2 separate regions of the Homo sapiens genome follow, and region 1 is linked to region 2. A link means that fine-mapping ties the variant in region 2 to the plasma level of a protein whose gene starts in the linked region. Region 2 holds a variant in brackets. A gene starts in the other region. All regions are shown on their reverse strands.

Region 1 (8,000 bases), not on the chromosome of region 2:
CCGAGGCGAGCAGATCACCTGAGGTCAGGAGCTCCAGACCAGCCTGGCCAACATGGCAAAACCCCATCTCTGCTAAAAATACAAAAATTAGCCAGGCGTGGTGGCCTGCACCTGTAATCCCAGCTACTCAGGAGGCTGAGGCAGGAGAATTGCTTAAACCCAGGAGGTGGAGGTTGCAGTGAGCTGAGATTGTGCCACTGCCCTCCAGCCTGGGTGACAGAGCAAGACTCCGTCTCAAAAAAAAAAAAAAAAATTGACACATGCAAAATATAATAAACAAAATTGTATAAGTCCTTCATTTTTCATAAATTCAACGGAATGAACATTTAGTGACAATTTATTATAATTCATTTTTCAGAACTAGAAACTTCAAGTAGGATGACAGAGTGAGCTCAGCCACATGACACAGCAGAAGCCAGTCCCTGCAACAGGAAGAGCTGTGAGGAGAGGGTAAGAGGAGGTCAGGGCAGCAGAGAACCATGGAGGGCCTACGTGCTCAGCAAATTGCTGCTACATAGGACATCAGGGTCAGTTTTTCCAGCTCATATTTTTCCAAATACATTGTAAATTTGGACTTCGATATCAAATGTCCTGGTTTTTAAAAATACTATATGCTCCAAACAATCTGCATGTTGAATACTGCCCCTGGGTCACAACCTACAGTATAAAATAAGTTCATTAGAAACCGAAGTGCCTAGTCCACCATGAGGGACACTTGAACATTAAAACTCATGAAATCTTAATCACTTATCCCTTCACAGAAGCTTTTTTAAGCATCTACTATACAAAAAACCCTATGTTATGCATATTTACATCCTAGAATTCAGTGGCCTAGAACATTCTTAAAGTGGGTGTTTGCATGGCACGGCTAACTCCCTCACAGCCCTCAGGTCTTGTGACTGTCACCTGACAGGGAGGGCACCCTTGACACCCCCACCCCTATCCTGCTTCTCTCCATAGCACTTACACTATTTGTTGAATGAATGGATTGGTGGACGGCCTTTCTTGTAGCTACTACTATAAAAGAACATTGTACAATCTATTCCAATTCATTTAGAATGTGAAGGACACCACAGACTGGCAAAAGAACATCAGAAAATTCAAACTGCCTACTTTTTTGGCAGGTGTGTGTGTGCCCCACAATATACTCCTGACACATGCTGCTCCTATAGCTCCTGCCTCACCTATCAAACCTTTTCATTTGGGCTGTGTGCAGGTGGTTCCCACCTGTAATCTCAGCACTTTGGGGGGCCGAGATGGGAGGATTGCTTTAGCCCAGGAGTTTGAGGTATGATTGTACCACTGCACTCCAGCATGGGTGACAGAGTGAGACTCTGTCAATCAATCAATCTTTTATTTGCATGAGACAGTTTCCAAGGTCCTCCCCTGTTCTTATTTGTGTTTGGACTTTGACCACTGTTGTCCATGTCTAGACCAGGAGAAGTTCTAGAAAGGGTGTGAGAAATCATACGAGAGCTTAGATTAGGCAATTTATTTTTATTTTCACGATGGTTAGCATATATAAGGCCAAAGGAAAATAAATTTGCATTAAAGTTCCTTTTATGGCAATCAATATTTTTATTCATAAACTGTCAGTACTGAGAATATTACTTTTTCAATTTTGTAATTTATCTTTGTGTTTGCAACATGTAAATTACTTGTGATTCCTAAATATACTGTTATAATGCAACTAGTTCTTCAATATTTAGACTAAGGCTCAATGAGGCAAAAATAAAACAATTTAAAAAGCATGGAGAAAAGAACTAGGTCCCCTCCATAGGACCCCTTTAGGAAACAAAAATGGAAGATTTTTCTCTTCACAATACTTGAGGGAAGAAGAGGTACACTGTTTCATTTGGAATGATAACCTGGAAAAGGGTGGAGATAAACTCCAGTTTCTTCCCAGATGGCACGTTCGTGCCTGCTGCACCATCTCTGGCAAATGTGAGGCAAAGCTTTCCATGTCACAGCCCCAAGATGGTGGAGGGTTGTGCCTGAGGCCTGCACCTTTACCACATTATCTGCAGAACAGAGTGAATAAGCCAAATATACTACCCCTAACCCCAGCATCTTATTCCAGGGCCTATTTCTTTCCCTAGGCCCTCTGACCAAAGATCGAAGCAAAATATCAGAGGAAGACTAGCTTAAGTCTCACAGTGGGGAGAAGGAAAAGTAGCTGTAACATATCTTTAGAAACACAATCTTACAGGAACTGCCTCTCAACTCTCTAGATATGGGAGGCAAAACTGCACCCAGAAAGGCCATGCAGGCAACTCGACTGAGGAGTGCCTTGGGTGGGTGACGTGGACAACATCCTGTGAGTATAGAAGAGAAAAACACAAGTCCCAGAGACAACAGTTGCCATGCAAAACCAGAAATCACAGACTGGGAAAGCCTAATTTTTAAAGAGAAGTTGAAATCTTATTTTTAAATACAGCAATTTCACCTAACAAAAATACATACACATGACCCCCAAATGACAGACTGAGGAACGTTCATAGTACCTCTCCAAAAGGTAATTAATCTAGTTGAATATATAAACAATTTGTGGCTTATTCATGTATGAGAATACTATACAGTGACAAGAATGAACTACTGTGTATCACAATGACACGAATGGATCTCAAAAGCATGTCACTGAATGAAAAAAGCCAGATGCAAAAGAGAATGCACAGTATGATTCCATTTATATAAAGTTCAGGAAATAACCTATGGTGCTGAACTCAGGCTGTGACTTGAGGAGTAAGAGGAGGGATTCTGGATGTATGAGAATGGAGTGTGAGGCTGGGATTTCTTGATTGGGGTCATTTTGTAAAAATTAATTGAGTTGTACCATTATGATATGTTTTTTTTTGGTAACATACACTTCAATAAACAGTTCAGAAACAAAACATTGTGCAGGACAAACTGAATTTGACCCAAGGGCTTCCTGTTTATGACTGTGTTCTGAAGGAATTTAGGCAAACACTAGATGCTCTGGATACAAAGATTTTAAAAATCCAGTTCATATTTTCATTATGTTCCCAATTCATCCAGTTAACAGATACATTTGCAACTGAAATATACTTGAATAAATGAGAATATGAGCATTCTAAACCAAACAGGAGGGCCGTCATTCCCTAAGGTGCTGCAGGGCTAGGATGGGGCCTGAGTTACAGAGGGCCACTAATGGGACTACCGAGCTGCCTGGAACTGTCAGCCTAGAGGTCCAAGGAGGAGTACTTTATTTAAGTGAGGGGAGGATGAACACATAGCCAGCTGCTATGCACATCTGAGGCACATGTATTCTTTAGGACTGTAGCTGCCTTGCTTAACACAATGTGTGCCATTTCTCTGGAGAGAGGGAACAAACGATGGTCAGACTCTTGATGACAGTAGAGAACAGGTCTTCTAACCCACTGGAAAAGCTCTTTGCTGGCCTCCAAATCTATACAACAGTTGGGAAGAACCATTGGGGTCACTTACAACAGTAAGTCCTTGCCACTAGGGTTAGAAAACTGTCCTCTCAGGCCGGCCATGGTGGCTCATGCCTGTAATCCCAGCACTTTGGGAGGCCGAGGCGGGCAGATCACGAGGTCAGGAGATCGAGACCATCCTGGCTAACACAATGAAACACTGTCTCTATTAAAAAACCAAAAAATTAGCCAGGCGTGGTGGCGGGCGCCTGCAGTCCCAGCTACTCGGGAGGCTGAGGCAGGAGAATGGCGTGAACCTGGGAGGCAGAGCTTGCAGTAAGCCAAGATTGCGCCACCGCACTCCAGCCTGGGTGACAGAGTGAGACTCCGTCTCAAAAAAAAAAAAAAGAAAACTGTCCTCTCTTGAAGGTCTTAGTTGATGTAGAATTGGGCAGTCTCTTGGGGATGAGTGGAAAGGGGGTACAAATAATGATTTATTTTCAGGAAATAGCATCTTCCCTGCTCTAAGTCTCCCTAAATGTCAGTGAGGCCATAGCTAATATTCTCTTGAAAAGGGAAAGTTGTATGCATCCTAAGAGGGTGTTACTTGGACATGCATGTGTGTCTGTGTTATATCACATATGTTGAGTCCAGGGAGCAGTTCATGGAGCCTCATCCATAGTTTCCCTGACATGCTATAGCAGTGCTAAAAGCTTAAAAAAAAAAAAAAGTCTGGAGAAGTATGCATAATGCAATAGCTACAGTCATTAGAAGAAAAAAAAAGTATGGTTCTTTCTCAGGTACATCTGAAGTTTGGGTATATACTTCAGTAATGTTGGTATCCTTTATTCAGATTGATAAATATTTTATTAGTCTATACAGGTTGAGTAATTTTTGAAATTGTAATTTACAAATATTCATTCACTTAAGAATCTAATATTTTTAAAACTAGGTATTTCTTGAATGACTCCGACTGCACTTTCAATGGCCAGTTGCCATGCATTATTAAACTTTCTTTTTTTTTCTTCTTCAGAATCTTCCAGTAGACGTCTAGAGTTTAGCTAGAAGTCTTGGCTACGATACAAACAGTGATGGAAAACACATGAGCAGTAACAAGTTTTAATCTTGCTCCTCAGTACTAACATGGACTAATCTGTGGGAGCAGTTTATTCCAGTATCACCCAGGGTGCAGCCACACCAGGACTGTGTTGAAGGGTGTTTTTTTTCTTTTAAATGTAATACCTCCTCATCTTTTCTTCTTACACAGTGTCTGAGAACATTTACATTATAGATAAGTAGTACATGGTGGATAACTTCTACTTTTAGGAGGACTACTCTCTTCTGACAGGTATGTTTCATGTCTATCTTACAAGTATCGATGTATACTTTACAGTCAATACTAAGGAGACATTAATGTTATTAATAAATGCTTATAAATAATAGGATAAAGTCCAAAGTTTATCTCTATAATTTCTTAAAAATCAGCATTTAAATACAAACCTAAATTTGTACCTAAAATTATTCTAGTTTTATGTCTTACCTATAATGAATGTATTTTAAATATAATTATGTGACTTTTTTTTTCAGCTAAGTGAAAACCTGTCATTATGCCTTACCATAAATGTTAACATGATTGATTTTAAAAGTCATCTAAATAAACATCTTGTATGTTTATCTAGGAAAATAACATTGCTATAATAATGATCATGAAGTTTGGGGATATCACAGCTATATTAAATGAAACAGTAAATATATTTTTCAATATTTAAAATATTTTCTAATGTGTATTTAAAATGTGTGAATTACTGAAATGTCAATTTTACTTATACATTTGAATATTCATTTTTTTCCTTGATAAATGTCTTCCTTATTATAATGAAATGGCACTGAAAAGTTCAAATGGAAATCTATTCAATTCCAAGAAAGAATACTTATCAGCAATAGTTTAGCTAGCACTATATTCAATATGAAAGATTAGGAAATTTTCACAGCATGTATACAGTCAGAATTTAACACTTTCAAAGATTTCCTTTGTCTACTCCCAAAGTAAATTTCTGATTAAATTTTAGATTAAAAAATTTAAGCAATGTATTCAATATTCTACTCCCTAGTAATCTAAATAGCGCACAGCATTCTTTCATGTTAATCTATTCAGAGGTGTGGCACCCAGGAAACAGTGGCCACATGGTGTAGGGACTGAGTCATAAAGAACCTGAGGGGGTTGTATTTCCCTAAAAATAAAGTTGTTTAAATCCAAGAATCAAGCTGTTAAAAGAAAGAAATGAAAAAAGAAAGAAAAATCGAGCACAAGCCCACACACATAAAAGGATCCTGATGTTTTTAGTTTGTTTTTTGGCATTAAGGAGTATAGTGTAGTAGTGGAAAGAACAGAGGATATATAGTCTTCTGTTACAACTAACTACTCAATTAAAAACAAATATTCTGATAACTGATCTGAGGTTTGAGACAAAAACAATTAACTTTACAAGCACAAGTCTTGAGGCACTGTGGGAAACATCATAAAAATGGAGAGGCAGTAGATTTTGTTTTTTAAGACAGTAGCTTGATTGCTAGACATGTGGAGAAATTAATGAAGGGCAAAATTAGTATAAAAGGAAGAACAGCTAGAATGCTTTGTCAGAATGCTAGTTATACTTCTAAGGTAAAATTAACTACTTTTTAAGGAAAGTGCTATCTTTATCAGTATCCATGAACAAATGGTACTGTGAATAAGTTTCCAAATGCATGTTGGACTTTTAACTCATTTGTTAGCTTACAAGACTATGCCTTGATTACATCTGAATTTGGTTTGGATTCCTTCGGTGAAATATATGGAGTATGTTATATCACATTTATATGCTGAAATCTGCTACTGGTACCTGTGAACTGATAGGCATGTTTAAACCCAGGGGAAAAGTTGCCAAGCGGGCCTTTAAACATGGGATTTAAAAGCACAGTGACTTATTTACCTAATAATAGTGTCTGAGAGGAAATACCATTTCACTTAGATAAACTTTCTAAGTTTGTAGACCAGTTAAATGGAAACAAGAAAGCTTATGTGCTTCTTAAGCTTTATTTCCAGTCCATATGTTATGAACTCTTTTAAGAACTTGGCCAAACCTCCTTACCTAGGCTTTTCCAGAGGAAAGTCTGTTTACTGTCTGGAAGTAACTATGAGATTAAAATCCATTTAGGAGGACATGCAGTCTAGTGCAAAGCACAACCAACAAGCAGTGAGGAAGCCAGCCCTCAGCTCCACCACCTCCAGCCAGTTCTGGACGCTCACTGCCTCTGCTTTTTCTCAGTAAAAGAGGGCCATGGGGGGAAAGTCTCAAAGACCTCTCTTAGCTCTAGGCTACTATGATTTATTAGTAATAGCAGTAGCACTGGAAGAATACTCCAAACACTACTCTGATTAAGAGAGACTTGAAACCAAAATCCAAAGCTTTCCATGAGTGGAAAACACTGGCAAAACTGGTCTAAATCAGGGAAATATTGAGTATTCCTGAGAAGAAGATTTAATATTTTTAAAGGGTTTAAAAATAGAGTAACCTGAATACTGCCAAAACTAATAAAACAGAGGTTGTACCTCATTAATAAACTCAAAATAAAACAGCCAAAAGTCATATCATTTTAAATGACATATAATATTCTCTACATTCTTTCTGAATAATAAGAAAAAAATACTGCTATCTAGGGTTCTCTCCTAGACATTCCATTATTTTCCTATTGGTAAACAGTTGCACACTGAACTGGGGGAGGTTTAGGACCTATACTTGATTGTACTTATTAACAAAGCAGTGGAAGAGACCCAGCAAGAGACTCAGGTAAAGAGTGTAAATAATGAATTCCTCATGGTATCAAGGTTGGCCTGACTTTTTTCTTTGCAAGCAACCAGGATACACAAATGCAAAAGATTAGATTAATTGTAAAAGGCTAACAGAAGACAGAACTAGCAGAGAGAAATGAATTTTCCAGAAGGCATTTTTGAGTTTCCATATAAAGACTTTCCTAACAGCCATGGATGGACAACTGTGGAAGATGCTGCCTTGAGGTAGTATCCTCTCCCTGGAGCTATTCAAGCAGGGTGGATATGCTCCCTGTTCCAGAATGTTCTGGAACCTTCACCACCAGGAGGAACTCCTGTTTCAAAGGTCTTCATCTCTTATTCTCCAGGAAAGGGCCTAACTACTATATAAAAGTGGCTGCCTCCACTGCTCAGCAACTGGAATGCTTCCCAACAGCTAAAGATAATGCTACTGCCTAAAACTTGCAGGCAGAAGTCTCCATTTCATATTTTAATTTTACCGCAGTTTTGATTAAAGGCAGGGAGGGTCTCCTGTAACTTATCAGTCTCAGAAAGAGGAGAGACAAAGGAAGGGGCCCCGGCTGATGCTTCTCCTGATGCCACTGGGGGACTGGTCAGCAGCCCTGAGGCAGGGATGTGGAAAAAAGCAGGACCACTACTGTTCTGCTCCCTGCCTTCCCTGCCCTGTGTGCCTTCTCCTTCTCCTCTCAACTCTCAGTTCTGCTCCTCATACCTGATCCAGTTCCTCATCTCGAACCTCAGCTCAGTACTGGGGAAGCCTCTCTTGACGGTGGCAC
Region 2 (8,000 bases):
TAGTTTTAATTGTATTTATTTATTTTAAATGTGTTTATTTATTTTGAGACAAGGTTTTAGTCTGTCACCCTGGCTGGAGTGCAGTGCCACACCATGGCTCACTTCAGCCTTGACCTCTCAGGATCAAGCAATCCTCCCACCTCAGCCTTTCGAGTAGCTGGACCACAGGCATGCATGGCTAGTTTTTGTGTCTTTCTATAGAGACGAGGTTTCTCCATGCTTGGCTAATTTTTGTATTTTTCTGTAGAGACAGGATTTCTCCATGTTACCCAGGCAGGTCTCAAAGCAATCTGCCTGCCTTGGCCTCCCAGTCTGCCTGCCTCGGCCTCTCAATAGCTGGGATTACAGGCGTGCCACCATGCCCAGCTAATTTTTGTATTTTTAGTAGAAATGGGTTTCCGCCATGTTGGCCAGGCTGATCTTGAACTCCTGACCTCAAGCTATCCGCCTCGGCCTCCCAAAGTGTTGGGATTACAGGCGTGAGGCACAGCGCCGGGCCACTAATTTTTAGAGATGGGGTCTTGCCGTGTTGCCCAGGCTGGTCTCAAATTCTTGGCCTCAAGTGATTCTCCCACCTCAGTCTCCCAAACTGGGGGGATTACAGGCATGAGCCACTGCAGCCTAACATTTTAGATTTAAATGAATTACTATTGAAACCAATGATTTAAAGTAATGAAGGATGCTGTAATATTACATTCAAACTTAATGCTGAGGCTTTAAAGTAAGAATGCAAGAGTAGGACTACAAAGTTGCATATTGAAGATTGTAATGATGTCATCACTAATGCAGTGAATACCAGTGATGGAGAAAGTCACCAGTGATGGAGAAAGTCACCAGCGCTGGGAATGGTGGCTCATGACTGTAATTCCGGCACTTTGGGAGGCTGAGGTGGGAGGACTGCTTGAGTTTAGGAGTACATGACCAGCCTGGGAAATGTACAGAGACCCCTGTCTCTACAAAAAAAAATTTTTTTAATTAGATGGGCATGGTGCTGTGTGCCTGTGGTCCCGCTACTTGGGAGGCTGAGGCAGGAAGATCACTTGAGGAGTTCGAGGCTGCAGTGAGCTATGATCACACCACTGCACTCCATCCTGGGTGACAGAGGAGACCCTGTCTCAAAAAAAAAAAAAAACAAAAGAGAAAGTTGCCAGGATCCCAAAGTGATGTGAAATGTACCTGGTTTGGAGCATGATGATTAACCCTGGCTTTGAGGAGAGTGATTTTCTAGGTTTGAGCCTGGAGATTAAAACTTTTATGATAATCCTTTTCTTAATATGTATATTTTGCTACATCCTACATAGCTTTAGTATTCATTGAATTAATGGTTTCTAATATAATTCAATTTTTTGTTACTTATGAATTTATATCAGGTCTTTTTTGCAAGTTTAAAGCAAGTTTTATGTGATCAAAAGAAGAGATTTGATTTTTGTTTTACAAGTCTTGGCTAATTATTCTTCCTTTCCCTAATTTTTTTTTTCTTTTTTTGAGACAGAGTCTTACTCTGTTGCCTAGGCTGGAGTGCAATGGCATAAATAGGGTTCACTGCAGGCTCAACATAGGCTCAAGAGATTCTCCTACCTCAGCCTCCCGAGTAGCTGGGACCACAGGTGCACATCACTATGCCTAGCTAATTTTTGTATTTTTTGTAGAGACAGGGTCTTGCTGTATGGCCCAGGCTGGTCCCAAACCTCCTGGGCTCAAGGGATCCTCCCACCTCAGCCTCCCAAGGTGCTGGGATTACAGGCATGAGCCTCTGCACCTGGCCATTTTTAAAAATAATTACCAACTACTTGAAGAACATTTTTTTAATATAAAAAATGTATTTGAAATAGAGATAGGGTCTCACTATGTTGCCCAGGCTGGCCTCAAACTCCTGGGCTCAAACAATCCTCCCGCCTCGGCCTCCCAAAGTGCTGGGATTACAGGCATGAGCCACCACACCTGGCAGAAGAACATTTTAATCACCTCCTCCAAAAAAAACCCTCATACCCATTAGCAGTCACTCCTTATTCCTCCCTTTCCCCAGCCCCTGTAACCCACTAATCTACTTTCTGCCTCTAGGGATTTGCCTATTCTGGACATTTCATCTAAATGGAATCATACAATATGTGGCTTTTGGTGTCTGGCCTTCCTTCACTCTGCATAATGTTTCCAAGGTTTATCTATGTTGTAGCATGTATCAGTACTTCATTCTTTTTATGACCCAATAATATTCCTTTGTATGCTTATACCACATTTTGCTTATCCATTCAGTTAATTATTGGATTTTTATATATAGTGTGTTCTGTTTACACAAATAAAACAATGTTCAATCATTTTCAATACCTGTTGATGAAAAGTCCTCAATGCTCCTCTCTACCATCCACAAAAAAAATTTCAAAAACATAGGTGAATCATGTATACTCGCACATGTCATATGCCAGTATATACAGTACACTTTTACCATGTACTGCAGAGTAAGAGCCAAACTACCAAAGCAAGAGCTCGAAGCAAAACACTCTGGACAGCTTGAAGAAAAACACTCCCACATCTGTGCCAAGAGGTTGTGAAATTACAGACACTTTAAAATTAGAGAAAAGGCCGGGTACAGTGGCTCATGCTTGTAATCCCAACACTTTGGGAGGCCAAGGTGGGTGGATCACCTGAGGTCAGGAGTTTGAGACCAGCCTGGCCAAGATGATGAAAGCCCGTCTCTACTAATAATACAAAAAATTAGGCCAGGCGCAGTGGCTCACGCCTGTAATCCCAGCATTTTGGGAGGTCAAGGCGGGCGGATCACTAGGTCAGGAGATCGAGACCATCCTGGCTAATAAGGTGAAACCCCGTCTCTACTAAAAATACAAAAAAATTAGCCGGGCGTGGTGGCGGGTGCCTGTAGTCCCAGCTACTCGGGAGGCTGAGGCGGGAGAATGGCGTGAACCCAGGAGGTGGAGCTTGCAGTGAGCCGAGATTGCGCCACTGCACTCCAGCCTGAGCGACAGACTGAGACTCCGTCTCAAAAAAAAAAAAAAAAATTAGCTGGGCATGGTGGCAGGCGCCTGAAATCCCAGCTGCTCCAGAGGCTGAAGCAGGAGAATCGCTTGAACCCAGGAGGCGGAGGTTGCAGTGAGCTAAGATTGCGCCATTGCACTCCAGCCTGGGCAAGAAAAGTGAAACTCCGTCTCAAATAAATAAGTAATTAATTAATTAATTAGAGAAAAGTCCACTTACGGAAAAAGGTCAGTCCTCAGACGG[G/C]GGATCTTGTTGGATTCACCTGGAAGTAGTTCGAACATTGGTCCTTTTTCTTCAAGGCAGTTTGCAGAATTACTGTCTGGATTGCAGCGCACCCATTGGTACCTGGCTCTCCGCGTAGGATAACCTGCCCGAGGAACCCACATTGTTACTAAGTATCTACTACACAGCTTCTAATCACTCTGTCCTAAGAAGTTTTTATTTTTATTTTTTTTTCGAGACAGGGTCTCAGTCGGCTGCCCAAGCTGGAGTGCAGTACTGTGATCATAGCTCACTGCAACCTTGAACTCCTGGGCTCAAGCCATTCTCCCACCCCAGCCTCTTGAGTAGCTGGGAATACAGGGGCACCACAACGCCCAGCTAGTTTTGTTTTGTTTTTGTTTGTTTGTTTGTTTTTTGGAGAGATGGGGGTCTCACTATGTGCCCAGGCTGGTCTCAAACACCTGGGCTCAAGCAGTCCTCCTGCCTTGGCCTCCCAGTGTGCTGAGATTACAGGAATGAGCAACTGCACCCCACCCGCCCTAAGAAGGTTTTAACTAAATAGATTCTAAATTTGGTAAAAGGCAAAATGTAGACAGATTTTGTGCCCATTCATATAACAGCAGCACCCACTATGTGCCAACATTTTATATAAATTGTCCTTCTTACAACACTCCAAAAAGTAGCAGTTTAAAGTTAGAATAGGCTTTGGAATCAGCTGCCTGGAGTGAAGTCCCAGGTCTGCTGACTAGTTATGGAACCTTAACTTCTCTGAACCCTCACTGTAATATGAAGATACTAATAGTGTCATAAGCCTATCACAAAAATTAAATGAGAAAATACACTTAGAGAATTTAACACAGTGCCAGGCACACAGTAAGCACTTGATAATATTAACTGTTGTTACTTTTGTACTATTATCTCAATTTTACACAAAAGAAAATTGCAGCCACACAGGCGCTAGGATTCCAACCCACATCTGACCCCAAAGCCCACATCTTTTCATAGAGATGAGTCAAATCAGGTTCAGAAAGGGGAAGGAACACACTGTGGAGTACCCGTGGTATCACAGAATTCTAGTTCTTGTGTTTTAGGGCCATACAGTATCCTTAGGAATGAAAAGTAGATAACAATTTGTCCTGTGTCTTTGCACTCAGATTTCACAAGAACAAGTCTCCTCTATTCACAGAGCACCAGGCAGCTTGGAATATCTGAGTCTCAGCTTCTTCTGAATTTCATTTCTATGGAAAAGGCTCCAAATCTGATATTATGAGGTTATATAGGAGATTTATTTATGTATTTATTTTATTTTATTTTATTGAGAGAGAGTCTTGCTGTGTCGCCCAGGCTGGAGTGCACTGTCACGATCTCGGCTCATGGCAACCTCCACCTCCCGGGTTCAAGCAATTTTTCTGCCTCACCCTCTGGAGTAACTGGGATTACAGGCACTCACCACCACGCCCAGCTAATTTTTAGTATTTTTAGTAGAGATGGGGTTTTGCCATGTTGCCCAAGCTGGTCTCAAACTCCTGAGCTCAGGCAATCCACCCACCTTGGCCTCTGAAAATGTGAGGATTACAGGCGTGAGCCACCATGCCCGGCCTATATAGGAGGTTCTTTGTTAGCTAATGAAATAAAATCTTCCTTCCTCAGTTTAGCAAAGACAAAGGCCTGGTGGTGAGAAATACTTCACCGCCCTTCAAAAAGTTCATCTCCTCCCCACTCCAAGCATATACTTTATTCTAATGAGTGCAACTAATAATTACCTAGCAAGAAGGAGCATGTCTAGGATTCTTGAAAGTCAGGAAGGGTAGTTTTAAAGCTCACCACAAAATAATGGAAAACATTCAGATAAATTACAAGGCATCAACTCATAAGAGAATACTAACCAAATGAAGAAAAGTACTTTTTTTTTTTTTTTTTTGAGATGAAGTCTCGCTCTGTTGCCCTGGCTGGGATGCAGTGGCACAATCTCGGCTCACTGCAACCTCTGCCTCCCAGGTTCAAGCGATTCTCCTGCCTCAGCCTCCCGAGTAGCTGGGATGACAGGTGCCCACAATCATATCCAGCTAATTTTTGTATTTTTAGTAGGGATGGGGTTTCACCATGTTGGCCAGGCTGGTCTCGAACTCCTGACCTCAGGTGATCCACCCGCCTCAGTCTCCCAAAGTGCTGGGATTACAGGTGTGAGCCACCACACCCGGCCGAAAGTACTTTTTATGGAAAAGACAATGTGGCATTGTAGAAAAACCTATACTTAAAAATGAGTGAGAGGGTGAGAGGCGGGTAGGCAAAAACTTTTTTTTTTAATAAAATAAAAATAAAAATTAGGTTGGGTGTGGTAGCTCATGCCTGAAATCCCAGCACTTTGGGAGACTGAGGTGGGAGGATCACTTGAGCCCAGGAGTTCAATACAGGCTGGGCAACATAGAGAGACTCCCATTTCTACCAAAAAAGAGAAAAAAGATTTTAAAAATTAGCTGGATGTGGTAGCACACATCTGCAGTCCCAGCTACTTAGGAGGCTGAGGCAGGAAGATTGCTTGAGACTGGGAGGTCACAGTGAGCCAAGATTGCACGGCTGCACTTCAGCCTGGGTGACACAGCGAGACTGTCTCAGAAGAAAAAAGTTTATTTACAAAATTAAAAATAAATAAAAATAACTGAGAAAATCAGAATACCTCTTTGCATGAATAATAGTTTCAATTATATAAACAGACATGGGGGGAAAAATGGAAGGAAATACACAAAAATAACTGGAGGTAGAATCTTTGGTGATTTTTTTTCTCATTTTGTTTTCTAAATTGCTATAATAAACAATATTCCTCTAAAAACATAAACATTAAACACTTTAATATAGAAAACAGTAAATATTCTCCCATTGGATTTTCTTTCTTTTCTTTGTAACTATATATTATTCTATCATAATCTTTCCTATGATTCCTGAGTATAGCTTACAATGTCTGGTCTGGGAGAGCTGTTTGTCCAAAATGAGCTAACTCTGCCACTGCCTGGAGGCTGGGGATAAGGCAGGCAAAATGACCTTTCAATGTCTGCCCCTTACTGGCTGTGTGATCTTGGCCAACTTAAACTTCCTGTGCCTCAATTTTCTCATCTGTAGGATGGGGCAGTAATAGAGTTAATAAGGAGATACAAATGTTAGGTTCTCAGAGTAGTACCTAGCACATAGTCAGAGCTCTTCATTGCTAGTTCCTGTCATGAAAAGGAGGAGGACAACAATGACCTATGATCTCCGAGAGTGAACATCTTATAAATTTAAATTCAAATTCCCATTCTACCATTTAGTATCTCTAGGAGTCTCAATTTATGGACTTTCTTTCTTTTCTTTTTTATTTTTCCTTATTTTGAGATAGAGTCTGGCTCTGTTGCCCAGGCTGGAGTGCTGTGGCACATCTCAGCTCACTGCACCCTCCGCCACCTGGGTTTAAGCTATTCTCCTGCCTCAGCCTCCCGACTAGCTGGAATTACAGGCACGTGCCACCATGCCCGGCTAATTTTTTGTAGTTTTAATAGAGACGGGGTTAGCCAGGAAGGTCTCGATCTCCTGACCTCGTGATCCCCTCGCCTTGGCCTCCCAAAGTGCTGAGATTATAGGCGTGAGCCACCGCGCCCGGCCTGGTTTCACTCTTTCTCTTTTGATTCTTTCCTGAGGCAGCATTAGTTTAGCATCTAATTGCTACTTAGACGTCTCTTCCTGTAGGTGAAATAAAAATCCAGCATCTTCTCCAGCAGAGGGCGGTGTCTTCACACCTTGTACTGTCTAGACCAACTTTGTCCAATAGAAACACAAAGCAAACCACATAGGGAGTTTTAAATGTTCCAGCGGCCATATTTTTAAAAGTAAAAAGAAACAGGTGAAATTAATTTTATTTAACCTAACATATTCAAATATTGTCCTTTAACATATCATCAATGTAAAAGTTATTACTGGGATATTTTGCATTCTTTTCTTCATACTAAGGGTTCCAAATCTTGTATATTTTGCATTCACAGCCTGTCCCAATTTGGCCTTGCCACATTTCAAGTGTTCAGTAGCCACAAGTGACTTGTGGCTACCGTACTGGACAGAGCAGGCCTAGGCAGTCTCTTCTGCAAGCCGCTGATGCACTGAGTATCAAGCTGAGAAAATGTTTGCTCACACAGGAAGCTAAACAGAAAAATAATGCTTAATGAGAAAGCATCCAGGTGAAAGACCACATCTTTTCACCAGCATGACAAATACAACTGTAGCATATTAGTAAAAAATATTTCTAGAATACAAAATTCCCCCAGAGTTCAGAATCTCAGCTAATTAAAATTCGTAACGAAGGCTTTCTTTTGGGGGATGATGAAAATGTTCTAGAAGCAATTATAGTGATGGTTGCATGACTCTGTGAATATACTAAAAAACATTGAACACTTTTTTTTTTTTTTTTTTGGAGACAGAGTCTTGCTCCGTCATCCAGGCTGGAGTGCAGTGGTGCAATCTCAGCTCACTGCAACCTCCACCTCCCAGGTTCAAGTGATTCTCCTGCCTCAGCCTCCCAAGTAGCTGGAATTACAGGTGCACACCACCATGCCCAGTTAATTTTTGTATTTTTAGTAGAGACAAGTTCTCACCATGTTGGCCAGGCTAGTCTCAAACTCTTGACCTCAAGTGATCCACTTGCCTTGGCCTCCCAAAATGCTGGGATTACAGGCATGAGCCACCACACCTGGCCTAATCACTGAATTGAACACTTTTAATGGGTGAACTGTATGGTATGTGAACACTATCTCAACAAAGCTATT

Alleles and levels. Positions count from the first base shown, and alleles are read on the strand shown. Strength reflects both the effect of a copy and how common the allele is.
For the plasma level of the protein whose gene starts at base 4,530 in region 1, allele C in region 2 goes with a higher level than allele G (weak association).

What was found. A credible set is the group of variants that fine-mapping cannot tell apart. PIP is the posterior inclusion probability: the model's chance that the variant is causal. Protein levels are from antibody-based Olink assays in UK Biobank. Linkage for the fine-mapping came from a reference panel and not from the study's own genotypes, which makes the PIPs less certain.
Region 1: ASPN starts here. The variant in region 2 is the best candidate, but not a certain one, in a credible set for the plasma level of the ASPN protein (UK Biobank, PIP 0.71).

The regions. Positions count from the first base shown.
Region 1 is chr9:92,479,036-92,487,035 of GRCh38, reverse strand. It overlaps ASPN (asporin), which reads left to right and starts at 4,530. Exons shown (of 8, transcript NM_017680.6): 1 at 4,530-4,743. All of the region lies in intron 5 of CENPP (centromere protein P), which reads right to left.
Region 2 is chr10:69,092,442-69,100,441 of GRCh38, reverse strand. SRGN (serglycin) reads right to left here. Exons shown (of 3, transcript NM_002727.4): 2 at 3,211-3,358. Among named protein-coding and RNA genes, the nearest start is that of SRGN, 8.3 kb to the right of the region's middle. The variant G/C (reference allele first, on the strand shown) is at 3,235.